Linked DNA regions of Homo sapiens: regions 1, 2, 3, 4, 6 and 7 are each linked to region 5. Evidence: fine-mapped expression QTL. A gene starts in region 5. Each other region holds a variant in brackets. All regions are shown on one strand. Distances are between the middles of the regions.

Evidence for each region. PIP is the estimated chance that this variant, and not a neighbour inherited with it, causes the effect. A credible set is the group of variants that fine-mapping cannot tell apart.
Region 1: its variant is the best candidate, but not a certain one, in a credible set for the expression of PPFIBP2 in aorta (GTEx, PIP 0.65).
Region 2: its variant is the best candidate, but not a certain one, in a credible set for the expression of PPFIBP2 in esophagus mucosa (GTEx, PIP 0.79).
Region 3: its variant is the best candidate, but not a certain one, in a credible set for the expression of PPFIBP2 in whole blood (TOPMed, PIP 0.61).
Region 4: its variant is the best candidate, but not a certain one, in a credible set for the expression of PPFIBP2 in whole blood (INTERVAL, PIP 0.55).
Region 6: its variant is the best candidate, but not a certain one, in a credible set for the expression of PPFIBP2 in esophagus mucosa (GTEx, PIP 0.51).
Region 7: its variant is the best candidate, but not a certain one, in a credible set for the expression of PPFIBP2 in neutrophils (CEDAR, PIP 0.81).

What each region holds. Positions count from the first base shown.
Region 1 is chr11:7,587,933-7,592,290 of GRCh38, forward strand. All of the region lies in intron 3 of PPFIBP2 (PPFIB scaffold protein 2), which reads left to right. LOC105376535 (a long non-coding RNA gene) reads right to left here. Exons shown (of 4, transcript XR_007062579.1): 2 at 2,174-2,462. Among named protein-coding and RNA genes, the nearest start is that of PPFIBP2, 76 kb to the left of the region's middle. The variant G/A (reference allele first, on the strand shown) is at 1,812.
Region 2 is chr11:7,658,606-7,662,963 of GRCh38, forward strand. It overlaps a transcript of PPFIBP2 not described here. Among named protein-coding and RNA genes, the nearest start is that of CYB5R2, 13 kb to the right of the region's middle. The variant C/T (reference allele first, on the strand shown) is at 2,634.
Region 3 is chr11:7,573,816-7,578,173 of GRCh38, forward strand. All of the region lies in intron 3 of PPFIBP2 (PPFIB scaffold protein 2), which reads left to right. All of the region lies in intron 3 of LOC105376535 (a long non-coding RNA gene), which reads right to left. Among named protein-coding and RNA genes, the nearest start is that of PPFIBP2, 62 kb to the left of the region's middle. RefSeq lists enhancers at 56-880, 881-1,704 and a silencer at 4,123-4,357. The variant G/C (reference allele first, on the strand shown) is at 2,459.
Region 4 is chr11:7,550,757-7,555,114 of GRCh38, forward strand. The region is part of intron 2 of PPFIBP2 (PPFIB scaffold protein 2); the gene reads left to right. Among named protein-coding and RNA genes, the nearest start is that of PPFIBP2, 39 kb to the left of the region's middle. The variant A/G (reference allele first, on the strand shown) is at 2,506.
Region 5 is chr11:7,511,692-7,516,049 of GRCh38, forward strand. PPFIBP2 (PPFIB scaffold protein 2) reads left to right here and starts at 2,308. Exons shown (of 24, transcript NM_003621.5): 1 at 2,308-2,430. LOC124902806 (leucine-rich repeat extensin-like protein 5) reads right to left here. Exons shown (of 4, transcript XM_047428005.1): 2 at 2,427-2,914; 3 at 432-2,349. The coding sequence ends at 1,519. RefSeq lists an enhancer at 1,084-1,203 and a silencer at 1,874-2,403.
Region 6 is chr11:7,536,824-7,541,181 of GRCh38, forward strand. The region is part of intron 1 of PPFIBP2 (PPFIB scaffold protein 2); the gene reads left to right. LOC124902806 (leucine-rich repeat extensin-like protein 5) reads right to left here and starts at 1,716. Exons shown (of 4, transcript XM_047428005.1): 1 at 1,515-1,716. The coding sequence starts at 1,716. The variant G/C (reference allele first, on the strand shown) is at 2,144.
Region 7 is chr11:7,592,850-7,597,173 of GRCh38, forward strand. PPFIBP2 (PPFIB scaffold protein 2) reads left to right here. Exons shown (of 24, transcript NM_003621.5): 4 at 283-375. LOC105376535 (a long non-coding RNA gene) reads right to left here. Exons shown (of 4, transcript XR_007062579.1): 1 at 4,249-4,324. Among named protein-coding and RNA genes, the nearest start is that of CYB5R2, 78 kb to the right of the region's middle. The variant C/T (reference allele first, on the strand shown) is at 2,111.

The DNA of each region.
Region 1 (4,358 bases), 76 kb after region 5:
AGACTGATACAAGTCTTCTCTGTTTCTTTTCCTTAGCAAGAAAACAAGGGGAACAATTTGGCTGATCTAGGGTTCGCCACAATTCATGGTGAAGTTTCTTTTTTGGACCTGACATATCCCCTGAAAAATCTCATCCCTAAAATGCAATGTTCTCCAAGGTGCAGAAATCTTGATTTCTTTGAGTATGCCAGCAACCAGCTCTCTGTGCATGAGGAACTTATCAAGAGTAAATTTCTTACTCAGTGACCAAGGGGAGGGATGGGAGAGGTAGGGACAGGACCTGGTTTAGGTTAGGCTAGTATCATTGTACGGTCCAAACTGCCCCTTATGTGGGGACTTAACTATCCCTGCTGGAATCTTGCTGGTCAGTCAGTCCTCTCCCTCCTGGCTACTCACAGTTCTCTCTCTGTCCTCTCCCTGCTGAGGCTGATTGACTATCATGATCAACTCCAGGATCCCAACCATAGAATACCCTGCACAGCTGATACATTTTCCTGAGGCCCCTCTCAGTTAGGGATGGCTTAGAAAATACCCACACCTTAGGCTGTTAATTGCTCAAGCTGCACATTAGGCTTGCCCAGCCACGGCAGTGGTAGCAGTTTGGGTCTTACAGAAACAGACCCTAGGATAACCTGTAAGAATCAAGGAGGTGTGTTGTCACTGTTTCTGAAGACACTCTGGAATATTACTCCCAAGGCCTAGGGAAGACCTTGATATGACAACTCTGTGCTGTGTTTTATATTTGCCTCCGCGAGGTCTGAATTTTAGAGGATGAATTCCTTGTGTCCAAGACTTTTTTCAGCCTCTTGAGAGCAACACTTGATAGACACAAAGGTGGCTTGGCTTCAATGATCTTGACTAAGGGTGCTGAGTTCTTAAAAATATCCATTCGAGAAGCCCTTGTCTTGATTCAGTTCCGTGATATAGGAGAGGTAGTATGTTTCACTGTGGCATTCTTTAGTCAAAATTGAAGAGGATGTGGAAATGTCTGGAGTTAACAGTTCTCCACAGGGCACACAGATCACATGGTTCTCACTATATTTTTAGGTAACTAACCTGAATTACAGTATCAGAAATAGCTCTGACCATTTGAATGAATGGTCTGAAAATTTGAATGAGAAGATTGACTTTTCCCTGTCACATTTGTAGCAATAACCATCAGAACAGAGGGGGAGGAAGTTTGATCAAATATATGTAACACAGCTTACCATTGGCAGGTCTAGCCTAGTGGCTAATGTCATTGGTTGAGTAAAAATTAGCTCTTTCTTATATTCATCTGTGGATTGAGCATCCTTAACAAGTATAACGGGGGTGGATGATACTCTCCTTTATAGTCACTTGCCATCCCACAGTGGGGAACAATAGAAAATTAGCATGTAGGCCAGGCACGGTGGCTCATGCCTGTAATCTCAGCACTTTGGGAGGCCAAGGTGGGCAGATCACAAGGTCAAGAGATTGAGACTATCCTGGCCAACGTGGTGAAACCCCATCTCTACCAAAAATACAAAAAATTAGCTGGGCATGGTGGTGCATGCCTGTAGACCCAGCTACTCAAGAGGCTGAGGCAGGAGGATCGCTTGAACCCAGGAGGCAGAGGTTGCAGTGAGCCTAGATCGCACCACTGCACTCCAGCCTGGTGACAGAACAAGACTCTGTCTCAAAAAGAACAACCCCCTCCCAAAAAAAAAAAAACCTCAGAAAATTAGCACGTAGCATCCTTCAGAATTTGATTGGACTTTCTTCTCTGTGAAATGTGGGCATGGTTTTTGCAACCTGACTTCATGCGTGGAGAGCTGGGCAACTGCTCTATC[G/A]CTGACTTACCTAATCAGGAACATGGACAAGACTTTTCAGAGACACCTCAAACCTGGAATCATGCAGGGATCCACTATCCATCCAAGCCTTCTATTTGCAATTCCACTATTAAAGAAGCAGGTATACTTGTTGACCAAGCAAGCTGTCTTTAAAGTAGAGCAAAACAGAGATGTGTCCTAACTCAGTCTTTTAAAATATTTTTCTCAATAAATTGGAATCCCATTTTGATAACCACAAAGCTTATTATGCCTTGATGATGTAGTCATTTTATAATGCAAGAATGATACCAGAACGTGATTGAACCTGTTGCCAGGTTATAAGAATACAGAATATACAGATTCACCCAAAGGCAAATCCTTACCTTAGGCTGATGAGTATTAGCATTCAGCAAGACAATCCTCTTCTTGGCCCTGTTCTCAGATGCTTTCCAAGTTTTTCTCCAGGCAGAGGTGGCATTTGATCCTGGCCTATGCCCTTCTGAAGAACGCAGTTTTTTTTAACATCCTAGTCCTATATAGATCATGAAAACACATGGCTCTGACTTCATCAAAAGCAAAGGATAGTGATACTGTGGGTTTCCATCTGGAACATTATCTTTCACTGCTGTTTACCTTTAAAAAGCTTGCTGGAGAACGGTGATTTTGAAGGACCTGTAGAAGAGGAAGATGCACTGTTCCTCTAGAACAGTGATTGGGGTGGGGGAGGGACCTGTCTGCCATGCACACCACTGCTGTATGGACCAGTATGCCTGCTAGGAAAGGAGTTGGCTCCTCGAATCTGTTATAGGAGGGGCAAATATGAGGAACCACTGTTCTAGGTCCTCTAACAGTGCTTCTAGATTTTCAAATATATTTTAATTACTCAATAGAAACATTTTGTAAGAAACTCAAACATTATGTCAAAGTGCTCTGAACAGTGCCTGGCACATGTTGAGCACAAGGTGCTTGCTGTGTATTTACAGCACTGTGCCTGGACCATATTATATTAGTCTCCATGGAATTGCTTTCACCTTTGGCCCATATTGTCCACTAGCCTCTGAACTATTCTGAGAACATCACACAAAAGTAATGAGTTCTACTGGGCTCTGTTTACTATAAGGGTGTCATGGATATTGCTGATCCCATCACACAAAATCTGTCTATGAAAACGTGAAGTTTCTCCCTTGCTCCGGAATAATTATGCTTCTCCTAGGCAATTGATTTGATTTTACCATACTGATCTGCGGATCCTGTTAACTGATTGTGCCTCTCTTTTTTTACTGGCTGCTAGCGTGGATCTAGATTTTTGATCCCCCTTCTAGCATGTGCTATAGAATCTAGGTCATACATTTTATTAACTGAATTTATGATTTCAACTTTCTTACTCTTTTTTTTGTCAACTAGTAAAAATAGTTACCTCTCTGGGTGATTGTATGGGTAGACCTTTTATTATAATGAAGAATATACTGCACACCATTTGAATAAGGCATAGTTGGTACAGTGGCTTGCTGGAGTCTCTGGAAGAAGTCTTGCCTTTGGTCTTCTCTCCTTCATTTCCTGCCAGAGAATGGGCGGCTGCCAGTGCTAGGTGGCTCCGTGTCCATGTGGACTTCGGCACTGGGGTTCTACCTGCAGAGCTTCACTTGGACACCTGGGTCCTGTTTAATTCTCTGTCCACTGGAAATCACCATCATGTGAGTTCTTTGACAGAGAAGAAGTTGACCTGCTATTAAGAATTATTCTCCTACCTTTTCTTCTCTGGTTCTGAGAAAATATAGATTATAATATATTCTTGGATTCTAGTCAGAGAATTTGATCATGTGAGAACCGGAATATTAATTTAACAACAATAAACTGCCATTAACAAAGAAGTCAGTTGTGATTGTTAAGGTTCTTTGTCTGTGGCATGAAAGAGCTTCCATAACAATGAACAAGACATAGGCTCCAGAGGGGCTGGAGCAGAAGACAGTGGTGTGGCAGCAGGTGCTGCCTGGCACAGCTGGCCTGGGGAGTGGCCCCTGGGCCTGTCCTCTGGCTGCACCTTCAACAAACAATCAATGAATCTTTCACTAGTGCGCATCCAGGGTTTGAATGCGGTATGCTTGGTCCACATTTCTGTTCTAGGACTGGGCATGGCTCTGTTGCCTCCCTCACCTATGCAGTGCATTGGGAAGGGGTGGGATGAGGGGAGGAAGGAGGTGCCTTTTCTCATGGAGGGTGGTGGGAGAGCCCATGCTAAAAGTTGAAATGTGGGGAAATGGCCTAGGACAAGGTGGCCCAACTCTGGGTCTCTCACATCTGCCTCTTTGCACAATTAAGACTTTCCTCTAGGGTGGTAGACACCTCCCTCGTGAATATTGAAGTGCTGATTTCACTGGACCAGCTCAGATTGTATAATACTCAGTTCCACATTTAGCAATCAGATCTACTTTTTCAAACTGCCAAGCCTCTGGGTGGCCTATTGCAGACCAGTCTGATTTCAGTCTTCCATTTGCATGGAGGAAGGAGGTGTTGGGGCCAGCTTGGTGACATTAGCTCCTTCTCTCCTGTCTGCCCACAACCAGGTCA
Region 2 (4,358 bases), 150 kb after region 5:
TACGTGTGCATGTGTCTTTATAGCAGCATGATTTATAGTCCTTTGGGTATATACCCAGTAATGGGATGGCTGGGTCAAATGGTATTTCCAGTTCTAGATCCCTGAGGAATCGCCACACTGACTTCCACAATGGTTGAACTAGTTTACAGTCCCACCAACAGTGTAAAAGTGTTCCTATTTCTCCACATCCTCTCCAGCACCTGTTGTTTCCTGACTTTTTAATGATTGCCATTCTAACTGGTGTGAGATGGTATCTCATTGTGGTTTTGATTTGCATTTCTCTGATGGCCAGTGATGATGAGCATTTTTTCATGTGTTTTTTGGCTGCATAAATGTCTTCTTTTGAGAAGTGTCTGTTCATGTCCTTTGCCCACTTTTTGATGGGGTTGTTTTTTTCTTGTAAATTTGTTGGAGTTCATTGTAGATTCTGGATATTAGCCCTTTGTCAGATGAGTAGGTTGCGAAAATTTTCTCCCATTTTGTAGGTTGCCTGTTCACTCTGATGGTAGTTTCCTTTTGCTGTGCAGAAGCTCTTTAGTTTAATTAGATCCCATTTGTCAATTTTGTCTTTTGTTGCCATTGCTTTTGGTGTTTTAGACATGAAGTCCTTGCCCATGCCTATGTCCTGAATGGTAATGCCTAGGTTTTCTTCTAGGGTTTTTATGGTTTTAGGTCTAACCTTTAAGTCTTTAATCCATCTTGAATTGATTTTTGTATAAGGTGTAAGGAAGGGATCCAGTTTCAGCTTTCTACATATGGCTAGCCAGTTTTCCCAGCACCATTTATTAAATAGGGAATCCTTTCCCCATTGCTTGTTTTTCTCAGGTTTGTCAAAGATCAGATAGTTGTAGATATGTGGCGTTATTTCTGAGGGCTCTGTTGTTCTGTTCCATTGATCTATATCTCTGTTTTGGTACCAGTACCATGCTGTTTTGGTTACTGTAGCCTTGTAGTATAGTTTGAAGTCAGGTAGTGTGATGCCTCCAGCTTTGTTCTTTTGGCTTAGGATTGACTTGGCAATGTGGGCTCTTTTTTGGTTCCATATGAACTTTAAAGTAGTTTTTTCCAATTCTGTGAAGAAAGGCATTGGTAGCTTGATGGGGATGGCATTGAATCTGTAAATTACCTTGGGCAGTATGGCCATTTTGACGATATTGATTCTTCCTACCCATGAGCATGGAATGTTCTTCCATTTGTTTGTATCCTCTTTTATTTCCTTGAGCAGTGGTTTGTAGTTCTCCTTGAAGAGGTCCTTCACATCCCTTGTAAGTTGGATTCCTAGGTATTTTATTCTCTTTGAAGCAATTGTGAATGGGAATTCACTCATGATTTGGCTCTCTGTTTGTCTGTTGTTGGTATATAAGAATGCTTGTGATTTTTGTACATTGATTTTGTATCCTGAGACTTTGCTGAAGTTGCTTATCAGCTGAAGGAGATTTTGGGCTGAGACAATGGGGTTTTCTAGATATACAATCATGTCATCTGCAAACAGGGACAATTTGACTTCCTCTTTTCCTAATTGAATACCTTTTATTTCCTTCTCCTGCCTAATTGCCCTGGCCAGAACTTCCAACACTGTGTTGAATAGGAGTGGTGAGAGAGGGCATCCCTGTCTTGTGCCCGTTTTCAAAGGGAATGCTTCCAGTTTTTGCCCATTCAGTATGATATTGGCTGTGGGTTTGTCATAGATAGCTCTTATTATTTTGAAATACGTCCCATCAATACCTAATTTATTGAGAGTTTTTAGCATGAAGGGTTGTTGAATTTTGTCAAAGGCTTTTTCTGCATCTATTGAGATAATCGTGGTTTTTGTCCTTGGCTCTGTTTATATGCTGGATTACATTTATTGATTTGCGTCTATTAAACCAGCCTTGCATCCCAGGGATGAAGCCCACTTGATCATGGTGAATAAGCTTTTTGATGTGCTGCTGGATTCGTTTTGCCAGTATTTTATTGAGGATTTTTGCATCAATGTTCATCAAGGATATTGGTCTAAAATTCTCTTTTTTTGTTGTGTCTCTGCCAGGTTTTGGTATCAGAATGATGCTGGCCTCATAAAATGAGTTAGGGAGGATTCCCTCTTTTTCTATTGATTGGAATAGTTTCAGAAGGAATGGTACCAGTTCCTCCTTGTACCTCTGGTAGAATTCGGCTGTGAATCCATCTGGTCCTGGACTCTTTTTGGTTGGTAAGCTATTGATTATTGCCACAATTTCAGATCCTGTTATTGGTGCATTCAGAGATTCAACTTCTTCCTGGTTTAGTGTTGGGAGAGTGTATGTGTCGAGGAATTTATCCATTTCTTCTAGATTTTCTAGTTTATTTGCGTAGAGGTGTTTGTAGTATGCTCTGATGGTAGTTTGTATTTCTGTGGGATCGGTGGTGATATCCCCTGTATCATTTTTTATTGTGTCTATTTGATTCTTCTCTCTTTTTTTCTTTATTAGTTTTGCTAGCAGTCTATCAATTTTGTTAATCCTTTCAAAAAACCAGCTCCTGGATTCATTAATTTTTTGAAGGGTTTTTTGTGTCTCTATTTCCTTCAGTTCTGCTCTGATTTTAGTTATTTCTTGCCTTCTGCTAGCTTTTGAATATGTTTGCTCTTGCTTTTCTAGTTCTTTTAATTGTGATGT[C/T]AGGGTGTCAATTTTGGATCTTTCCTGCTTTCTCTTGTGGGCATTTAGTGCTATAAATTTCCCTCTACACACTGCTTTGAATGTGTCCCAGAGATTCTGGTATGTTGTGTCTCTGTTCTCGTTGGTTTCAAAGAACATCTTTATTTCTGCCTTCATTTCGTTATGTTCCAAGTAGTCATTCAGGAGCAGGTTGTTCAGTTTCCATGCAGTCGGGTGGTTTTGAGTGAGATTCTTAATCCTGAGTTCTAGTTTGATTGCACTGTGGTCTGAGAGATAGTTTGTTATAATTTCTGTTCTTTTACATTTGCTGAGGAGAGCTTTACTTCCAACTATGTGGTCAATTTTGGAATAGGTGTGGTGTGGTGCTGAAAAATATGTATATTCTCTTGATTTGGGGTGGAGAGTTCTGTAGATGTCTATTAGGTCCACTTGGTGCAGAGCTGAGTTCAATTCCTGCGTATCCTTTGTTGACTTTGTCTCGTTTATCTGTCTAATGTTGACAGTGGGGTGTTAAAGTCTCCCATTATTAATGCGTGGGAGTCTAAGTCTCTTTGTAGGTCACTCAGGACTTGCTTTATGAATCTGGGTGCTCCTGTATTGGGTGCATATATATTTAGGATAGTTAGCTCCTCTTGTTGAATTGATCCCTTTACCATTATGTAATGGCCTTCTTTGTCTCTTTTGATCTTTGTTGGTTTAAAGTCTGTTTTATCAGAGACTAGGGTTGCAACCCCTGCCTTTTTTTGTTTTCCATTTGCTTGGTAGATCTTCCTCCATCCTTTTATTTTGAGCCTATGTGTGTCTCTGCACGTGAGATGGGTTTCCTGAATACAGCACACTGATGGGTCTTGACTCTTTATCCAGTTTGCCAGTCTGTGTCTTTTAATTGGAGCATTTAGTCCATTTACATTTAAAGTTAATATTGTTATGTGTGAATTTGATCCTGTCATTATGATGTTAGCTGGTTATTTTGCTCGTTAGTTGATGCAGTTTCTTCCTAGTCTTGATGGTCTTTACATTGTGGCATGATTTTGCAGCGACTGGTACCGGTTGTTCCTTTCCATGTTTAGCACTTCCTTCAGGAGCTCTTTTAGGGCAGGCCTAGTGGTGACAAAATCTCTCAGCATTTGCTTGTCTGTAAAGTGTTTTATTTCTCCTTCACTTATGAAGCTTAGTTTGGCTGGATGTGAAATTCTGGGTTGAAAATTCTTTTCTTTAAGAATGTTGAATATTGGCCCCCACTCTCTTCTGGCTTGTAGGGTTTCTGCTGAGAGATCCGCTGTTAGTCTGATGGGCTTCCCTTTGAGGGTAACCCGACCTTTCTCTCTGGCTGCCCTTAACATTTTTTCCTTCGTTTCAACTTTGGTGAATCTGACAATTATGTGTCTTGGAGTTGCTCTTCTCGAGGAGTATCTTTCTGGCGTTCTCTGTATTTCCTGAATCTGAACGTTGGCCTGCCTTGCTAGATTGGGGAAGTTCTCCTGGATAATATCCTGCAGAGTGTTCTCCAACTTGGTTCCATTCTCCCCATCACATTCAGGTCCACCAATCAGACATAGATTTGGTCTTTTCACATAGTCCCATATTTCTTGGAGGCTTTGTTCATTTCTTTTTATTCTTTTTTCTCTAAACTTCCCTTCTCGCTTCATTTCTTTTATTTCATCTTCCATCACTGATACCCTTTCTTCCAGTTGATCGCATCGGCTCCTGAGGCTTCTGCATTCT
Region 3 (4,358 bases), 62 kb after region 5:
CCAGAGGTGAAGGCTCAGGGCTGAGCGGAGCCCAGGATGCCTGTAGGTGATAGGTCAGTGGAACAGCACGTGACCATGAGATTCCTCTCAGTTTACAGTTCTGCCTGATAAGATGCTGCTGATTTCTGGTAGGCAGCAGGAGTAACACCTCAGGGGGCCTCAGCTCCTTTTTCAGCCATTCCCTCAAGTACTTGGAATTCCAGCCAGGTAGGTGGCAATCCTGGGGTTCTCTTCTAGACCCTAGGACAGGGGTGGAGCAAGCTACAGTGACTTTCCCCGGCAAACCTGACCACCCTGGCCTCTTAGCTGTGTTTTTACTCCCAGAATGCTCAGCCTCACAGTCTCCTGCCCTTTTCCCACAGCTGGCTGCTGCATGTTGCAGGCAGTAATGAATCTGTTTGTAGATGAGCAAAGTACTTCCAGGAAGGCCTTCGGGACTGTTAGGTCACTGTAGTGACCCGTATTTGTGTACCCTTTGTGCTTCCTGAGGACTTCTGTCTTCAGAGAGGGGTCCAGTGAGTCTGAGACACCACCTCACAGGAGCAGTATAATGGGAGCAGCAAGCCCAGGCCCCCGAGCTCCCAATAACAAGGGGAGCCTAGACCTTTGGGAGTAACTACCTCGGCCAATTAAAAGCTGGGCTTCTAGCCTTTTGGGAGTCATGGACTGTTCTGATAATCTGACAACTCTTTTTCAGATAAAGATTTATGAATACAAATAGTAGTACTTTCTATATATTTGACGAACATATTTAGGGGCTCATCTGATCCCTGGAATCCCATCTGTAAATCAAGTGAGGTGCCCTGGACAGGATGGACTTCTAGGGCAGTGGTGCAGCCATGGGTTTGCCTTGCCAGGCCAGTGTGATGAGGGAGCCACGACAGGGACCCAGCTGCCCCTGGGGGTGGGGTGAGTGAGCGAGGAGGTGCCTTAGCTTCTGAATCCATCCCATTTCACTCAGCCCTTCCCCTTTCCCTCCTGCCAACCTGCTCCTAGGTCTTTTGGGGTGTTAATTTGTGATTTTTGAGTTGAATTACAACGTAAGTAAAATGTACTTGGTGTTTAAGGAAAAACAAGGCTGAGATAAGACTTGCTACTTGAGAATGCCATAAAAATGTCAAGAATTTAGCTGCAGTTTATCTGGATTCTTCCCTCCCTTCCTCCCTTTTCTGTCCCTTTCTCTCCCCTACCCTGCACCCCCCACCTTTGTTCATCACACATTGAGTTGAGCTAACAGAGGAAATGGGCCCCGTCTTTTCCTTTTTGTGTCGAACATCTTTACCCTGGAGAAACGGACCTTCAAGTCTCTTTCCTTCACATAGAATTTTAGTCTTACTTTACCAGTCTTATCATTTGAGCCTTATTCTTTCATCCAAAAAATGTTTAAATTCGTACTGTGTGCTAAGAATTGTAGGCATGGAAGTAGGAGAAGTGAGTTGGAAATCAGACACACTTCTGACAGTCTGGTGCAATAGGAGTGGTCCAGTGTGACAAGGTCAGTGATGAAGTAGAGAGGGGAATTTAGGTGCTCAGGAAGGGATAGAAGAGGGACACCTGAGCCACAGCTCTATGTAAGCTGGGAGTGAGCAAGGCTGATGAGAGCAGCCACATTGGCCACCTTTCTCTTTTCTCTTTTCTCCTCTCTTGTACCAGAACCTAAGGAAGAGCACTGCACTCCTCCCAGGAGAGGGGAGAATTTTCCACCATCCTGTAGAGGCTGGAACCTTGCGCCACCTCTCCCTGTCCAGCTCCCAAATCAGCTTGTCTACCTCCTCTTCCTTGGAGTCCCAGATATACCTTTATTGCATACCATATGATAATTCTTAACCCAGGGCATGAAGTTTTTCATTTGCCTTGGATGCGGGGAAAATGTGTATTGACTGGATGAATTTCTTCATTTGACTTGTTCAGGCTTTTAGACAGAGAAAAACCAACCTACTGACCCCTGTACCTTTAGAGATGTTCTTCCTTGGCAACATCCTGCCATAGCACGGGCAGGGAACCTGGGCTGGGTGGGTCACACTGTGCTGTGGAGCAGGGCCAGAGGTGAGGAGCAAGGGGCTAGAGCTCAGCGCATGGGCAGCAAAGCCTGCTTTTCCTTTCTGGCCTCTGTCTGGGTGTGTCTCCAGGAATTTACTCCTCCCCTTATGCCAGCTGCTGGCTAGAGCTCTCCTCCTTGCCGCCTCTGTGATCTCTGTGGGCTGGCCCAGCCTGCCGGGGACTGTGCTGCCAGGCATTGTTTCTCCCCTTTTGGGCCCTGCTTCTGGCCCTGGTGGACATTGAAGCCATGCTGAGGGGCATGCGGCATGAGGGGCATGAAGGACTGCTCTTCAGACTGGGAGTTCCAGGAAACCCCGGAGGTGACCCCCAAGGGAACTGGGAAGGCCCAGGCAGTCACAAGCTGTGCATCTGCAAGTCCTTTGCCACAGCAGAGCTCGGGGCCTTGCGTGTAACCACA[G/C]TTCCCACCGTGTAACCACAGTTCCCACCGCACCCACATCAAAGGTCACTTTGATAATCAGCCATAGCCAAAGGCCACACATTAAGGGCTGGGGAAGGGAGAAAAGCTGTTTTTAGTGGGGAGCTCTCAAAGGAGATGGGAATAGGAGGAGGTGGGGGGTGGCATCTAGGGAGTGCTGGAGGGGCCACCTGGAGAGCCTGCATGTGACCTGCCCTGAAAGGAGGAAAACAGCTGCAGCTCCAGGTCTCCGCCAGCCTTTCCAAGGCCCCTGTCTACCCAGCACTGCTCCCTGAGTCTCATGGAAATGCACGTGAAGCAGCCTCAACCTTTCCACCTCCTTGGTTTGTAAAGCAGGTAGCCCAGAGTGGGGGACAGCCAGAGAGGCAGGACCCTCCAGCCCTGGCCCCTGTTCAGAATGTGGCCCCCAGGGTGCCCTGGCTGGTGGCCAACAGTCCAGGGCCAGACTCCCCTGAGTTTGCGGCAGTTGGTCTCTAATGGATGGTACCACCAGTGCCAAGGACAGCAAACGCTCTGTGCTGGGCCCGTCGCACAGCAGGACCAAGAACCCAGACTGGAGCTGCTTTTTTTTGGAAACAACAGGCTTTCCTCAGGGCACAGCCCGTCACTCGCCTGGAAAATGGGTGGGCGTGGGCTTCAGGGCGGGGGTCAGGCTGTGTGTGGGAACCAGTGAGCTCCTCCAAGAGCAGCACTTATTTTTAGTCTTCTCCCCAGTCCCAAATAAACTGAGAGCAGCTGGGAGCCCTGGGTAAATGCAGAGTGAAGCAGAGACAGGAAATCGGGGCTCTCAGTAATGAGTTCCAGCCACTCCAGAAGGGGGAAGCCAGACAAGGAATTTTCTTCAGGACTGTTTCCCTCTGGCAGGCTCCGGTATTATCACTGAGAATGGTCCCGTGTGTGTGTGCGTGTGTGTCATGTTTACAACTTCTGTCCAAGTCTTCTTTCTTTTTTCTCTACCTTTGTGTGACATTTGATTTCTCCGCAGGGCTCTGAATCCCAGTCCTGGTGCGTGTGCGTGCATGTATGTGCGTGTGTGTGTGTGTGTGTGTGTGTGTGTGTGTTTGTTGGGGTGGTCGGGGAGGACACTGAAGCAGCACGGTCTGCTCTGTGTCGCTGTGTGTCTGAAACTGTCTAGGGAGAGGCTGAAGGACGCAGGCCAGGGAAGTGGGGAAATTTGAACACAGCTTGGAGTTCTTGAGGGGGGAGGGGGCAGAGGCAAGGAAGAGGAGAGAACTGGTCTCCAGCCAGGAAAAGGGCTTTTTCCACCAAGGCATCTAACTGCTGACATGGGTGCCCAGCATGGATGGGGACATTGATGTTTACAAGCATTTCTCGTGGCTGAAGAGGGTAAGTGACTGGCTGCTTTGTCTGGGTCTCCGTGGAGATAAGTGAGGGGGAGACGCTTTGGGGTGTTTTGGGGTGTGTGTGCCTGTGTGTGGTAGGGGGAGGTATTGTCCAGCAAAGCCCTGCTGTGGCCAAGTTCTTCATGAGAATCTAATTATAGACACCAGGGAGAAAACAGTCAGCTGTCTTTGTTTCTCCACTGACATTCTAGTGAATGAGCCTCTGTACAGAAAGGCAAGAATGGAGTGAGGAAAGTTGGTTATTTTAACTTTGGCACCTAAACAGTCAGAGGCTCCAAACACCGTGACCAGAAGAATGTGCCCACCGCTTTTCAGTTTGAGGACACAGGGAGGAAGCTGCTGCCTTTTTAAATGCATTGGATTCGGAAGTTGTTTAACTCGTTCTCACTCTGATGTTATCCGGTGGAGCACACATCTGCTGTCAGCAGAATGAGCTTCTGCATTTCCGGAGGAAAGCTTTCAGGGAGTTCTCTTTGAATGCTCTGAAGCTGAGGGTTTATGTTGCAAGTTGTTCATGC
Region 4 (4,358 bases), 39 kb after region 5:
GGGAAGGCAGACTCACCCTTAATCTGGGTAGGCACCATCTAATAAGCTGCCAACTAATATAAAACAGGCAGAAAAACATGAAAAGTCTAGACTAGCTTAGCCTCCCAGCCTACATCCTTCTCCCGTGCTGGATGCTTCCTGCCCCCAAACATCAGACTTCAAGTTCTTCAGCTTTAGGACTCAGACTGGCTTCCCTGCTCCTCAGTTTGCAGACGGCCTATTGTGGGACCTTGTGGTCGTGTGAGTTAATAGTACTTAATAAACTCCCCTTTATATCTATATCTATAGATATAGATATCTATAGATATCTATCTCCTATTAGTTCTGTCCCTCTGGAATACAGATGTCCTGTTCTAGGTTAGGGTCTCTGATGCCTTATTGAGGAGAAAGAGTCAAGAAAGTGGATTTCCTAGCAATCCTTTTAGAGATACTGACCTGTGAGCTCCTCGGGGTCTCACGTGCATTGGGATAATAGCTACAGGATCATTCCCTGAGAATGCCTGAGGCAGTCATCACTTCAGAGCCTTCAGCCAAAGAGCAAAGGGGAGACTGAGCGAGTCCCTGGCAGACCTCTTTGATGGTTGTCAGGGAGGGATGAAAATACTATCTTTTCTCTACGTATTATCTCTGCTGCTTTGTCAAAGGTCATTTGATTATATTTTTGTGATATATATTCAGGTCTATTTCTGAACTCTGTATTCTGTTTCATGGATTTATTTTTTCTTTCACCAATACCACACTGTGTTGATTACTGTAGCTTTAGTAAGTCTTGAAGTTGGGTACTGTCAGTCCTCCAACTTTGTTCTTCAGTGTTGTGTTGGCTACCTTTTGCCTCTTCGTATAAAATTTAGAGTCAGTTTTTTGATCACAAAGTAACTTTCTGGGATTTTGATTGCAATTGCATTTAACTTAGATCATGTTGGGAAGAACTGACACTTTCACAATATTGAATTTTTGAGAGATGAATCAGACTTCTAAAGAAAAGTAGCCTTGTGTGGGGTCAGTACCTCTTTCTGACTCCTGATTTCTCCATACAGGCATTCCTGAAATGACAGAGCCTCTGGCAAAATTCATTTTGTCTCTGAGAGACATTATGTGGCTGGATCCTTAAGGCCTTGCCTTGACCCAGGATCTGCAGTTGAGAATCTGGGATGTGTGTGGAGAGAGGGGCCCTAAGTGTGGGTTGTGTGAAACCCAGGAGACCTAATCTTCTGATCTTCCAGTACAAACTGCTCTATCCTTCCATTTCCTTAGTCCTCCATCTTGGAAGGTTCTATCTAGAAGGGCTCCTGGGCTTTTCTGTCTGGAACAGGTATGAGAGTTTTGTAGAGAGAAGGCATTCTTTGCAAATTGGTTCTTTGCAGATTGGTAGGGAGGAATACCTGTAGCCAGACTACTTGTTTGAAAACCTAGCTCTACAACAAGTTACTTACATGGTCTGTGCCTCAGTTTCCTCATATTAGAAATGAGAATAGTAATACCCATCTTAGAGAGTTGCCTGTGTTGACATGCGTAAGGTGCTTAGAACAGTGCCTGGCACATAGTAAGCACTATAAAATGTTAGCTCTTGATAGATTAATGAGGGACTAAAAATAATCTTCATCATGTTGAATCTTTTCTGGGGACGGGGTAGTATTCTATTTATTAAAGCTCTTATTTCTCCCATCTGAGTTTTGTGGTTTTCATTGTATAAGGCTTGTGCATCCATTGCTGGATTTGCCCAGGGTCTGCAGATTTAATACGTGGTCTTCTGATTGCTCTCTGCATCTGTTCTTGCTCCCTTATAGACTGTTTCCCACAGAGCTGTAGAGTAAACCTGAAAATGTAAATTAAGTCATATCACTCCTCTCTCCAAAACTCCTCAATGGCTTCCCATCTCAGGATAAAGTTTAAAGCCCTTACCACGGCCAGCAAGGTCTTAGCATGGCTTGGCTTTCGTGGCCCTTTATGCATCCCTTTTACGTTCCCAGGGTGTATCTCACTTTAACCATGAGCTTGCCCCCCCCTCTCCTGGAATGCCCTCCTCCAGATCTAGGCTTATGCTGAAATGTTACCGTACCGGAAGGCCTTCCCTGACTGTGTCTATCATGCATTCCCACATAACTCTGTTCTTGTATCTTGTTTATACTTCTTTATAGCACTTATCACCTGACCTATCACATTCATATTTGCCTCTTTGTTTATTGTCTGCCTCCTGCACCAGCATGTAAGTTTCTTAAGGACAGAGGCTCTGCCACTGTATCTCCAGTGCCATAATTGGTGGTTTTAGGCATTTTAGTTAATAAGCATTTAATACATGCTAGATGTTTTTTTTTCATTTGCTTTTGTGACTAGGATCTCCTTTTCATTGGTTAGGAGGTATACATATAGGTTTCTGTATACATCTTCTATCTGGCTGCATACTGAACTTCATTTATTTTCTCTATTTTCACCCTTGTTTCACTGATTCTTTTGGAATAACAAATTATTATTATTTTTTTTGAAGACTAGTAGTTTGTATGTCCC[A/G]TGAACCATCCCTGAAGTAGTAACTGGCTCACACAGATATTTGACAGGAGCTATTTGACAGATTATTCAACACTGAGGTTACTAGTGAGTATCTGGAGGGCATGTTTTCTATGCTATTCTTGATAAAAAGAATGATCATTCTTTTGAATGCCTTGTTCAGGTTACTTTTTCTCAAGATTGCTGAGGACACTTTTCCTCATTTTTATGATGGCATTAGGATGGCTGAACCAAATTGGGCCAAAGAGGTTAAGAATTTTTGTGGTTATTAACATGGACTACAGAGTTGGACTGTAGGGGTTTGAATCCCAGCTCAGCCATTTAGTGCTGGCTGTGGGATCTTTGGACAAATTGCTTAATTCTTCTGAGCCTCAATTTACTTATCGATAAAATAGCAGTAATAATAGTACCTGTCTCATATTATTGTGAGGGTTGAATTAATGCAGATAAGGCACCTAGAAAGTGCTTAATTGATGTAAGTTATTTGTTTTATTGATATTAGTATTAAATTATTTTTACCCCCCAAGATCATAGTGCTGAGATTTGATTCCAGGGCCATCTGAGTCTCTTCCAGGCTCCTTTTATTCCTGGGCTGGTTTTTATGTTGATGCATGGGGCTGTCTGTAGGAGAAAAGAATTAACTGAGGGAAGGATACTTTTCTGCTCTTGCTCACAATCCCTAAGCCAGAGTGGTTTTGTTCTTGTCTCTCTTACGTTATTTCTTCTAAGCAAGGGTTCCTTTGCTTAAGGGTGGCACAGCTAAAGAAGTTTGAAAACTGGCACCACACCACAGATCTTGCAGAAATGACATTTTTGTGTGAACATTTAAATCTTCCTCTCTTTATTTATGTTCTCTTATTAATTTTAGATTGCATGATGTCAAGTAGTGCCACCACCACTGCCAAAACACAACTGCTTTTCCATCAAAGTACTCAAGTACCCAAAGAATGTATTTTCTCACAGTTACCACGTATTTCAACGGAAAAAACCTTTATGGGCTTCCTGGACCTCCCAAATAGTAACCACTTACACAGAAACAACACAGATTCCTACTAAAATGGATGTACTGTATTCAGTGATCACTAGTAATCATATACTATGTAACAAGGAATTGCCTCTTACTAATTACAGTAGGCTGGGTTACTGTTTACTTTCCAAAACTCCTTCTAAAAAGAGTGCACTTTGGGCATGTGATATCAATGTTTATGTAATTAAGCTTTTAGTGCAAAAAAAAGTCTGTCTCCTCCTGCATCAACTAAAACAGTGCAAACAGTGCGGGATGATTATCACTCCTGTAAACAATCAGACCAGGAGTACTCTGAGAGGACATCCTAATGCGCAAGTGGTAAATATGCCCCTCCAGAGCCACGGTGCGATGGCCTTTGTCTCAGGTGGTCAATGTTGGGAGGTGTGAGAGAGAGAAATTGGTTCTTGTAAATGCAAAAAGAAATGCCTTGTAAGCAGGACTATTAAATGAAACTCCTTGTAAAGTTGAATTCTTGAAATCTGAATGGCTGAATCCCAGGTGACTAGACTAGACTAGACTAGACTAGACTAGATTGGGTCTATACTAGATTGGGACCTCAGTATTTTATATCAGAAAGTTGGGAAAGGGTGGCTGTTAAAGACTCTAGGATCTTTGTCAATAATGACTTGGTTCTAATATGAAAGACCATTATTATAGTTTCCAGTAGGATGTTAACCTTTGATCTAGTCTTCCTCCTGATTAGTCCCTGTGATTCTGCTTGCAAATTCACTGTAATTGAATTACACTGTTGACAATTGAAATTGAACTCTATATTGCTTAATTACCTCCCTCTGGATGGCCTAGAGCAACTGCCACAGACACTAATTTT
Region 5 (4,358 bases):
TTTTCCTGTCTTTGCCAAGCCCAGGCTGGGACCATAGGCAGTGAAGAGAAAATGTTTTTTTCCATAGCATTTGAGTAGATATTTGGCAGAAGGGAATTACTCAACCCATGGATACAGTGTAATTACCCACAGTTCTAACAGAATGGTACAGAGAGGCCAAATCCTTTGTGGAATGAGACAGGTATGAATAAATAAATGTGATATTACCTGCCCTATTACCTACCTATTTCACAGATAGAAGGAATGTGGGCTGCCTCACAGAGGATAGTGGGGTAGATTTATCAATAGGAGTGAGTCCTGCAACCATAGTTCCTTTGGAGGCACAGAGGGGAGGTTGCCTGAAATGTGCTGTCTAGATTCCACCTGGGATATGATTTGATTGACAGCTCTGCAGGGCACATCTGCCCCAAACAACTCACCTTGGTACCTACCTTAAATCCCTGCAGCTCGAATCACTCTTTTAGGTCAAGACATTTTCTCCAGGAAGCCCCTGTTAAGGGACCACTTTGCTTCTTGTGAGCCAGCGCAGGTCAGTATGCAGGCCTGGGAATGGGGTTTCTTTCAGGTGAACGTTTTAGCTCTGGGGTCTTGTTGGATTTAAGTGAAGACTGACATCGACATGGCCTACATCAGTGGTTCTTAAACTTTGTTGCACATAAGAATCACCTGCGGAGTTTTAACAGTCCTCATGCCGTGGCCATATCCCCAAGACCATTAAATCAGAACCTCTGGGGATGGATCGAGATATCAGTATTTTTAAAGTTCCTTCCCGCAAGTTGGTTCCAAAGTGCAAAGAAGCTCCAGAGCCGGTGACTTAGAACATTTAAAAAGGTAACTGTATCAATTTAAGAACAGGCTAGCAGTTTCTGGGGGCGGAGGTAAGGGGAGTGGCTCCGCTAGGGCAATAAAGGGTGGGATTCGGAAACAGCCATGACCTTGTGTGAACTGTGGCAGCCTGCGTCTACAAAAGTCGCTCTGCTGCTATTTTAAGGAAGTGAAAGAGAACTGAAGGGTGTCCTGTTGTAACACAACTCTTGCGGGCCCCAGCCTTCCCCTGCTGGCTGTGCTTTGGTCTGCTGCTGGCCAGGTTCCCGCAGTGACCACACGTCTCATATTTGCCAGGGTGGGTTAGGTTCTGTTCACATGTAAAATTCTCCTGGGCCTACTGGTCATTTCAGACCGCGAGGGTAAATTTGGTTTGAAAAAGTTGTGTCCTGTGGAGTTTGTCGACACTCCAGCCTGTAGAGAACTAAAGGCTAGGGCTGTGGTGACTCCTGCCAGAGCTGGGGACTATGCCGAGTCCCTGGTGTCGCTGCCATCTGAGGCCTACAGGGATTTTAAACAGCTTAACAGCAGCCAGTCCTTGGAGGCCTGGGCAGGGCCACAACATAGCAGTACAACCAAAACGGGTTCAGGCCACACGCTGGAGGTAGGGGCTGGACCAGATCTCCAGCTTCAGTCCTCCCCAGTTCGAGAACCCATTCCTGTGGTCAGACATTGCCAACGCTTTTCTTGGACCTAAGGTCCCAGACCTTGGCGCTGGGCACAGGGAAATGCTTCCTGACCTCGGCTCTTCATAAGACAGAACTTTTGTTTGGTGCCAACCACTAGAGGGACCTCCACCCCAGGTTGCGAGTGCAGCGCGGCGGGACCTGGGATGATTCGGGGGCTTTCCGACCTGCTTAGGGAGGGCGGCTCAGAGACAACCTCAATTTTGCCTGGATTGCACGCGGGCCGAGGAAGTCGGGATGCTCCGAAGGGTTTCTGCTCTGGGAGTGCCTCTAATGTGGGTTTTCTATGCTTTCTCTCTTCGCAATTCTCGACACCGTTTCCTTCTTCCTCGCTTTCATTCCCTGTGACCGGAGAACGGCGCTGAAGGACTGGAGAAGCCCAGGAGACTGGGAGCCGGAGCGCCGGGTACCCACCCGGGCCTCCCCGCAACCGGAGCTGTGCGGAGGAGGAGGCGCGGCGAACGGGGCGGGGCTCCCGGAAGGGGGCGCGGTCCGCCGAGAGAGGCGGGGCTGGGGCCCGGACGCGCGGCCCAGGGGGTGGGGACGAGGCAGGTTCGAAGGGGCGGGGCTGACCAGGCCGGTCCCCCGGGAACAGGAACCCTGGTGGACGGGTCCCAGCAGGCTTCTTCGGTGCCCGAGAGGGAGCGGGTGCCCAAGGGGGTGGTCCCTGTGGCAGGTCCCGGGGTGGGGGCGCGGCGCTCCGGGAAGAGCCTTCCGCAGGTCCCCGCCCCGTCACGTGGGCGCCGGCCCCGGCCGCTGCGGTCGGTCCGCTGGTTGGTCGGGCGCTTGGTCCGGCAGTTGGTCGGTGGGCCAGTGGCCCGTCGCTCGCTTCTGGGCTCTCATGTTTGAAGGTGGGAGGGACACGGGAGCGGCCCGCACACCTGAGCCGCCCGGAGAGGAGCCTCGGCCCCGTACCCAGGTCAGTGGGCTCTCCCCACACCCCGGGCTTGCCGCGCGGTCGGGGTTGGGATCCCCGTCGGGAGCATTACCTAGGGAGTGGAGCGCCCCCAGAGCTACGAACCACGGGGACGTGTGGGTCAGTGTCTCTGTGAGCCCCGGAGCGTGTCCCAGGCTCGAGGACGGGGACCCTTCTCCAACTCCACTGGCCAGAAGCCTGGGAGGAGGGCAGAACTCCTGTGGGTTGGCTGCGAATCTCCACCCAACCCTGCCTGGGATCCGCGGACAGTCCGCACTCCTGCAGGTGCCAGCGTGGCCCTGGAGATGCGCAGGGAGGTGGGGTCCCTGAGTTCTGTGCGGCGCGTCCCAGCCCTGCTCAGCCCGGGGAGCAGCGGCGTGGACTAGGGAGCCTAAGGAGGTTGCGGAAGCTTTAGGTCTGTCAGCCCAGGCAATTCTCTGGTGGACACAGCGTGTGTCTAGATGCAGGGCCTCGGCTAAAGCCAGTTCTGTAGTGTAAGTGCAAAAATACAGCACACTTTTTAAAATCTAAAGCCGCCGCGTCCCAGTAGACTGCAGGATGGGGACGGTCCTATTTAAAAGTGGGCTCCCTCCTCACCTCATCACATCAGATTCCAGACCCGCAGTTTTTCCTCGGATGAAAATAAGATTATGTAACAAGAGAACAGAACTTCCAGCGTTTGGATAGGATTAAGACAGGCATTCTTGCCAGTGTTTAATCTTCTTAAAAAACGAATCTAATTATATTTTTACTTTTAGAGCAGCCAGATATTTGGTATAGATCCGTGTCCCTTTTCTATATTTTGGTCTACTTCCTGTCTTTCTCTTCGTCTCTCTCCTTTCTCAACCCCTCCTTAATTGATTGTAATACAAATCTGAAGTGTTTTCAAATTTGTAGTGTATTATGTGAAGTTAAATGGTCAACTACAGAAAAGTAGTTGGTTTTCGACATAATTCATCTTCAGCATATTCAGTCTTTCATTATTATAGGTGTATGGAAAGCTGTAAGTGTTATCTAATTTAGAAATTATTTCTCTTTGGCTTAAGAGAGGCAACCCATTTGTACTTTGCTTAAATTCATAGCTAAATAAATTTGAAGTGGGAGATGGGGATGATTGATGAGGTTTTCACTGATTGCATTTATCCATGTTTTATTTAACATATTTCAATTATTAGTAATACTATTTTAAGATTTGGTGATGTGACAGTTGTTAGCTTATTGCTACTGGAGAGATAAGCTGCTTACCATGATGCCTTCTTTACTGGGTAGCTAAGGGAGATGCGCTTTGACTTTAAAAGAGTAAGTGGAATGAGATCAATGACATGAAGGCGGTAGGAACAAAGTTATGGGAATTCCTGTCTTTCATCTGAGCAGGGAAATCTGGGATAATTTTAAGAAAGGGTGATGTGATGGACCTCAAAGGATCCCTCCTGGGGTTTTTGAGGCAGAGAAGGGTAGAGTGTGGCCTGGGCTGTGACAACTGTGTGGGCAGGCAGGCATGGACTCACCATGAGAAGTGGCCAGTGGTCCAGCTTGGCTCTTATGTCAAGTGCTAGTCAGGAAAGCTGGTGACAAGGCTGGAAAATAGTCCCAGCTGTCCAGTACAGAAGTCTGGACTTGGTCTGAAGGCACAGCAGGGGACTGACTGATGGTTCTGTGAACTTCTCAAAGTCAAAGACCTTGGTCCTTGACCCTCCCAATTCCTAGCCTGATACAGAGAAAATCCAGTAAATATTTGTGGAGTGCATGGTCTGACAACACTGTAGAGCAGAGCTTCTCAAAGTTGAGAATCCTGTGGGGATCTTGTTCAAATGCAAATTATGATTCCATAGGTCAGGGGTGGGACTTGACATTCTGTGTTTCTAACAGATTCCCAGGAGCTTGCTGATCATTTCCCTATGTGTAGCAAGGATTTAGAGTAGCAGTTTGCA
Region 6 (4,358 bases), 25 kb after region 5:
TGGAGAGAGGTGAGGACTCTACACTCTGATGAACAGAGCCAGGGAGAGAGCCTCCACGTTGTCCAGAATAGGGCTATGGTGAAAGAGGAAATGGAGTCAAGGAAGTGTGGGAAGGGAGGGAATAGGTGGGGACCTGAAGTGGGCAGGTAGAAGGGACAGGCTGGCAGACCATGGTTATACTTGGGGAGGGGAATCCAGAGAGATCCTTGAGCTCCTTGAGAAGGATCCTTCCTTCAGGTCCCCGCCTCCTCCTCCTACGTTATTGCTGGGAAGAGTGGGTGGCTTCTAGGTGGCTCCCTCAGTGGTTGTCATTGCCTAATGGCTACAGGCCATGTTCTAGGGGTGACAGGTGAGAGACCCTTCTCAAGCTGGGGCAGCTTCATTCGCTGTCACTATTCCCCTGCTCTCTGGCCACTGAGCTACATCTTTGTAAAACAGGGCTGATAATTGTACTATATCCCTCACAGGACCCCCTTGAAGATTAAATGAGAAAACAAAAATGAGGACACTTTTTTTCCCCCCCACAGAGGCAGCAGCTTCTCAAAGGAGACAGGAAACCTGTGAACTCCCAGAGCAGGTGGTTTTTACACACAGGTGGATATTGCACAGGCTCGAAATAATTCACCATCATCTTGATCTATTGTGAATGGCTGTGTGGCCAGGGCAGGCAGCCAAATCTTAGAACGTGTGAGTTATCTGTTGCCTAGTCCTGGCTCTTCACATCTTAGCCTTGAAAGATAGACTCTCATTTACGTTTACTTCTTAGACCCACTCTTTCTGAGCGGTTCAGAAGGAAGGGAAAGAGCCTCCTCTCCGAAAGTTCTCTAAGTGGCTACGGTGGGCCCTATCCCCATGAGGGCACTGATATACTTGTCTTACAGTATTGAAGGGCACACTGATGGGGTTTGGTGATGCTCTGCTCCCTGGATGCTGTCTGGCTCCCCATCTCAATTCTTCCCAAAGGCACAGATCCCTGCCTCGCTTCCCTGCCCTCCCCGCTCCCCACTCCCCAATCCCTCTCCTTGTTGGAGTACCTGCACTGTTTGACCTTTGGCATCTCCCCAAACCATTCTCTGACAGACCTGGCATTAAGGCATGGCCTTGGTTGTGGCTGGTTTACCCTAATCAGTGCTTGAGTTGGGAAAAGGATCAGCTTGGAGAGAGAGGGGAACAAAGGCAGAATATCGAGAGCAGAAATAGGTGAGAAGAGTCAGAGGAGGGTGAAGCGAGCATTCAACAACATCAAGCAAATACGGTGAAGGAAACTTGACATCAGCTTCTTAGTGTTCCTGAAGCCCAGAAGGTCAGATGTGCTTTTGGGTGTGAGCCATCAGAACCTCAGACTCACACCCGTTTCCTGGCCAGACCCTGCGCTCCTCCTTGTGGGCTGGGCTCGTGGTGTCTCATTCTCATGTCTTTGGGGTGGTGTTTCTCTTAAAAAGCTTGCCATTTCCAGTAGGAGGAGGATGTCGCTGCTGAGACTGTGGGACAGCTAGGCTCAGAGGGAGTCTGACTTCGGGGCACCCGGAGGTGAGGTCTCAGTGCCTGTTGCTGCTCTTTGCCTTCTTTAGAGGACAGTGTGCAGCTTTCTGACTGAATGCCCTGCTGTTGTGATATGTTGCTGGAAATGCTGTTTGGGGTCATGGAGCCTTGCTTAAAGGGCTGTGGTTTGGTGAGAAGGGCTCGAGCTTTTTGGGAATGCTTAAGTGGAAGCATCTGGGCTTGGCTCTGCCAAAGGAGGCTGGTGGTGGAGCAGGGACATGTGACAGGACTTGGGCTGTGTCTTCAGTGGAAGGACCAGAAAGCAAAAGGAATCCTTCCAGTGGGTTCAGCAGAACTAGGCTCCAGCACAAATGTTCTTAAGGATATCCTGGACCTCGCCTGACAGGGAGTGGCTGGGAATACCCGGTGCATAAAACTCACTAACCTGGTATAGCGGGAAAAAGACGCTAAGCAAGAAATATTGCATTCATCCCCTGCCACCACCCAGCACTGCCAGCCTGTGTCTAGATTCAGGGCCCTTTCTGCAGTTCTGATAGATCTCAGCCCCCACTGGCCTGAGCTTAACTGACTAATCAGAACAGCCTGATCTAGGATGTTTAGGTTGAAACAAGGAACCTTGTATGCGCCAAATATTTTTGTT[G/C]CTGTAAAGCTTTGAACAAATGTTTGCTCTTAGGAGTTACTGATACTATGATTAGATGGGGACCAGTTAAGCATGCTTGTTCACCTTCAGTGGCATTCTTCTATTTTCTCCTCTTCAGCTTCTTTTAGGCTACTTAAGCTTCTATTCATTGACAAAACAAAACAAAGCTCTGCCTCTTCACTTTTATTAGACTCCGATATTCACTGAAGGCATTCAGCAACTCTGATAGCAACGTTCTCAGCAGCCTGGCCCCTCTGTCCTGCTATGGCTCCTCTTTGTCCTGACAGGATATCTCGCTGTGTTGGGCTCCTCTGTCCTGAGGGAAATTTAGCACAATGGCCTTGTCCCTCATTGTGATATAAAGCCAGTGTCTGTGGGCTCTGCCATTGCTCTGAGGAGCTGTCTTCGCAGGCCAGGTGTGCGGCTTCTCCTCTCCACTGTCAGATCTGATCCTGTGGGGGTCGTGACCTCTGGATGTTATAGGACCTGTGGAGGACAGGTACAGCTTGTGGCCCTGGGCAGAAGGTGGGGACAACTTGAACTGCTACGCTGAGAGCCTTGCCAGTGTAGACCGGTGACCTCTTTATTTCCTTTCATTTTCTCCCTTTTAGAATGGGAGCTGAGCTCCGGGGTCAGAGATATGGCCCTGCCTGTGAGGGCCTTACCACTTAGACAAAAGTGCCCTGGAGAAGTCTGTCCTGGGAGTGGCGAGGGGGACCCAGTCAGAAGTAGTCACTTCCATCTGGGGGATGGATGGGAGAGGATCCTTGGAGATAATGATGATGGAATTTGGCCTCAAAACAGGAGTGGGAGTTGAGCAGGTAGAACGAAGGACTTCAGCTAAAACACTGAAGAAGCCCCAAAAGCAGAAGCAAGCTGGGGACAATAGCTTGGCTGTTGCTCAGGGCAGGAGCCAGATATGGCCAGGAGAATTAAAACTGCTGGGGTTGTGAACTCCCACCCAGTTTTGAATCTCTACAGTCCCACAATGTGTCTCTTTTCACCTGAATTTTATAAATAGGTAAAATGAGGTTCATTAATGTTAAAGAGCTTGTCGGGGCACAGCTCATGAAGGAAAGAACTTGGATCTACATGCAGGTCTGACTACAGAACCCACTCTCCTAACTGCTCTGTGGGTCCTTAACTTCGTCTCCAGGTCCCCAAGCACCCCTTTGTTGCCTGAGTGATAGAAAGCTGGTGAAGCGTTGTGAATGCTGGGAAGCCTTGGTAAGATTTGTGAAATAGACCCACCCTCCTGGCAGCAGTGTGGAGGATGAGGGGTGTGGGGGGGCGGTGAGGCTGGAGGCAGAGAAACTGGTTAGGAAGCCAGTGCAGCCACTCTGATGGGAGATGACGGCAGGGCAGGTGAAGATGAGGGGACAGATCTGAAAGAGAGGGAGGAGATTTTACCGGATCTGGTGCCCAGTTGGATGTGGGTAACAAAAGGGAAGGTCCAAGGCTGACTCCCAGGTTTTTATCTTGGTGACCATGGGGGCATCACCAAGGTGGGATGGGAAGCATTTGGGTCCCACCCATTGTGAGAATATAGAGAGGGAGGTGGGTGCTCAGGATGGGAAGAGTTTGGGGCTGTTGTAGGGGAACATGCTGCAACCTCACTCCAGTCCCCACTATCTCCCAGGCTTTAGCTTCCCATGGACAATGAATTGGTTATTTTATCAATAAATCTGTAAACACTTATCCAGTGCTTACAGAATGGGGGACCCCACAGGGACCCAGACACGTGGCACAGTTTTCAGGGAGATGGCTGTGCACAGCTGCTGTCATTCCTTTCCTTCAGGATGAAAAAAGATGATCAGGGAGATCCCATTTAGGTAGTCAGAATTAAGTATGATTACCTGGAAGAGCTGGCTTGATGGGAATTTAGCAGGGACAGCTGTAGGCATGGGCATAAAAGCTGGAAAGCAGTGCAGACAGCCAATTAACTAACAATTAGGATCAGATGCCTTAGTGATAAGGCATCTGGTGAGGATGGGGCAGAGGTCTGCCAAAAGGTATGTATGGTAAAAGTTAAAGCCGTGACCAAGTAGGTTGAGTCCATATGATGATAGACCATGATTTCTACTGTGTGGCTGGTGGCCAGCCCCTGAGGCTGTCTAAGCAAAAGGGTGCCTGGTGCAGGGCTGTGTTTGCATTCCATCAGTTCCTCAACTTTGGTCAGAATCAGAATCACCCGAATGGCTAGATCAGCCATAAA
Region 7 (4,324 bases), 81 kb after region 5:
CACTGCTGGGCCTAGAGTTTCACAGAGGCCCTCCTGGCCAGGAGTGAGGTCATCCAGGAGGTGGTTGTGCCAACTTCCAGGGCGCACTTTTCAGTGGCATGTGATCTGGTTCTCCTCATGGTAGTTTTGAAATCTTGTGGTTTCCTGTTTTGATGATTGGTTTTGTACATATAATCAGTGAAACTATCCTCACAAATTACATGCATCCCTTATTTCATTTAGAAGTTGGTAAGATGTTTTTCCAACCTTTTAAGTGTATTCTTTTTTTTCTGTCCTCTTTAGTCCCAGGTAAACCACCACAGTGCTGCTAGTAATGAAACCTACCAGGAACGCTTGGCACGTCTAGAAGGGGATAAGGAGTCCCTCATATTGCAGGTGGGTACTTTTTGGTGAGAATCGGCTTATCCTGTTACCTCCTACTATGTAGCTTCCCCTAAGTGGAAGGGAAGCCCAAGAGATTTTCTCTGTTGGAATTTTTCTCCTTCCAATGCCTATGTTTTTAGAAAAGACTTTTCCTGAAATAAAACATTAAGTAACTGAGGGGACAATTTAACTCTAGACTTGGCTTAGGGGGGCTGTGAATTCAGTCATTCATTTATCATGCACTCCCAAGCACCCGCTTCTATACACTGGCAGCCCCATGACCAGGCTGATTTCCAGGTGCTAAGAATGAACAAAATGGGCCCTGTCCCCCAGAAGCTCCTGAGTCTTGCGAGGGAGGGGAGATATATCCTCATGCCACTAATAAAACAGAGCTGTGGGTGATACAGGCCTAAGGGTGAATGCTAATGAATCAAGTCCAAATTGTCTGAAGCTGGATCTAGACTGATCCCTTTAATGCCAAATCCCCTGGAGCTGGTAACAGGGGCTAAGCCTTTGATAGCTGTCTTGCTTGAAAGAGAGGAGCTCCAAAACCTTTTACGGAGAAAGATCATCAAGGGAGCTTTTTCGCTGTTGAAAGTTTGTGTGCCTTGGTAGGACATAGAGTTAGGTATTCTCATAAGAAGGCTGTTGAAGAAGCAGGCCCAGCACTTTGCTGTGTTAGCTCTTGAAAATATAAATTGATTAAGCAAGCATTTACTCAAGGTCTGGTATGCATCAGATATTAATTAGTGATTTGGAAAATATAAAGGCTAGTATCCTAATCCCAGCTCCTTAAAAGCTTAAAGGGTGATGAGTTAGACTGGTGGTAGAATGAAGGGAGGGGTTGAGCGGGGCCTGGAACCCACCCCAGGCTATGGGCTTTAGCTTGGAGCACTAAGGTTATGAGGTGGCAGTGTGTTTGTTTTTTCTCTTTTTACCTTACTTATTTTACTCTTTCATTGTATTTTATGAACATAAGGGTAATGAATGATTTTAAAAACCTTTAAAATTCTAAAAATGTGAAGAAGCAGGTTAACACTTCGGCCTTTTTTCCAGTGTTGTTGGTTTTTTTTCTTTTGCCTCTATTGTAAATAACTGAGCTCATACCAAATATATAGTTTTACATTCCAGTTTTGTATTTTTCTTCACTTCATTGATTTCTTCATTATAAAATAATTGGGTATCTACAACTTGTGAGATGCTGGTTTTAGATGCTGGGATAAAGCAGTGAAAGAAGCAGACTAAATTCCCATTCTTGTGGATCTTCCATTTGAAAGAGAGAGAGTGGGCCAGGTGCAGTGGCTCATGCCTGTAATCCCAGCACTTTGGGAGGCTGAGGCAGGTGAATCACCTGAGGTTAGGAGTTGGAGACCAGCTTGACCAGCATGGTGAAACCCTGTCTCTACTGAAAATACAAAAATAAGCCAGGCATGGTGATGGGTGCCTGTAATCCCAGCACTTTGGGAGGCTGAGGCAGGTGAATCACCTGAGGTTAGGAGTTGGAGACCAGCTTGACCAGCATGGTGAAACCCTGTCTCTACTGAAAATACAAAAATAAGCCAGGCATGGTGATGGGTGCCTGTAATCCCAGCTACTCGGAAGGCTGACGTAGGAGAATTGATTGAACCCAGGAGGTGGAGGTTGCAGTGAGCCAACATCGCATCACTGTGCTCCAGCCTGGGCAACAGAGCGAGACTCCATCTCAAAAAAAAAAAAAAAAAAAAAGAAAAAGGAGAGTGTGAATTGA[C/T]AATAAGCCAATACATTAACTATTTCAGGTGCTGGTAAGAACGCTGGAAAAAAGTAAAGCAGGATGAGGATTGTGTAGTAAAAGGAAGATCTCCTTTACAGGAGGAAGCCAAGGAGGGAGCCATGCAGATACCTGGAGAAGTGCATTCCAGGCAGAGCAGGCAGTCAGTCCAGCCCACACACTGAGGCAAGAGTGTGCTTGGGGTGTGGGAAGAACAGCAAGTGGCCATTGTGCCTGCAGTCTGTGCTCAAAAGGGTGGTGCGAGCTGCCTTTAGAAAGGTAGCAAGGGCCAGATTGAATAGCACATTGTAGCACAGATGTTTGAGGGATGTGTAATTTGAAACTCTTATCCCAATGACATGATTAATGAAAGAGTATCCAATGTAAGATTTTGCAGCAAACAGTATGAAATTGCAAACTTTTGAACCAGGACCCTTCATGATTGAAATAGCACATTCCTATTTACAGAGGATTACAATTTAATTTTTCAAAGTCCTGTGTAATAATGCTCCCTTTCACATTCATAGTTTTCTAAAATTCCAAATTCTTGAATAATCCCCATTTAAATAATCCTAACACAATTGGGAAGCTGCTTGCCAGTAAAGTCAGAAGTTGACCCTAGTAGTTTCTACTCTACTGGGAGCTTATGGGCAGACTCCAGGAGTGTCTGTTAAGTGATCACTGCTGTTCTGCAGTGGAGCTGGTTAGGCAGATTCTCAGCAGGGTAGAGCCTCTTGCTTAATGCACACAGCAGCTTAGCCAGACTGAATTAATTTAGAGTCCTTGGCCCAGAAAGTTTTCCTGGTTCTACTCATAGAACAAGGCAAATCACACATAACAAAATACTTTGTTTCTAGGATTAGTTAAAAACAAAACCAGAATCTCTTGTATCTTCATTATAATGTAACTCCTTAGGAAAAGGATTTTTATCCTTTTTTTTTTTTTTTAACTTCTGTATCCTCCAGTACCTAAAATTATGCCTAGCATCTATTAGGGTCTCAAAAATAGTTGTTTTTAGTGAACAAAGGTCACATTTTATGACCTTTATGTATTTTGTCTGGATTTCCTACATCCCTTCATTTGTAATACTTAGAATCAGCGTTGAGGTTCAGAAAGCCCCTGGAGCTGAACAATTAGCTATAGAATGCTAGAGATCCTATGATTCCTTGAGTATCACCAACACATGGCCTCAAGGCATGGTATAGACCATAGAAATGTTTAACCCTCATAATAAGATTAACCAGAAAACATCCTTCACAAACAGAAACTCTGGATTCCAGTGAGCAAAGCCCACCCCCAGAGTCCTGCCCTTTTGAAAGTAGAGTTAGTTCAGGATGGCTGAGAGTGTTGGGCCACAGGGATTAATAAACACCCACCCACAAAGGTTTGCGTGTAAGGTGGACCAAGTTGATAGAAAGAGCCCGTTCTTGTTTTTTTTTTTTTTTTTAACATTTTTTTTGGTTAAAAGTGGAATGTTAACCATGTGTCAACTCCAGGAATATGTTTCAATAATTCATTAATCATTTGGGAAAATAAAAATGGAGATCTTAAAGTAGGCATATTAATTTAGATTAGTTCCTTTTTAAACAGGCGCTTTATAATTCAGAAAGTTTATCTAAACACTCATAAATGAATTCACATCAACTCATGCACCATCTATTATTCCATTTCAGACTGAGAAATAATTCTGGATAATCTATATGTAAATGGCAACAACTCTAACCAAAAAGGTCTAAAGGATCTCAGTTTATCAACTGCTAATTTCTTCACTTTGGGGAGGACACTCATTCTCTCTCTTCTTGCTTTGAACCATCTCTTAATAAAGAAAAAGGATCCTGGGGCCGTTTGCTAATAGAGAAGGCTATGAAAACCATTGTTAATATATAGTTAGTGCATAATTTGAATGACTTCCTGTAAATGAGTTTTTACTAATTAATATTTTTAATAGGGATTCTCAGCGTTCTTCAGAAAGATGACTTTTTTTCTGCCACCGTATGTGTAATGTGGCTTCTCTATATTTATGACTTAGAGTCATGTTTTGGCCTGTGAAGCACAATAACCTTTCTGGAGCCAAGTTTTGTCAGTGCTAATACATGCCCTTTACAGCCCACATTCCTTAATTGCATCAAAACACTCACCTGATAGGTGAGCAGTCCTCACACCCTTATGAGAGAGGTAAGGTCATTGGTTAGTTTCCATGAAGTTTGGACCGCT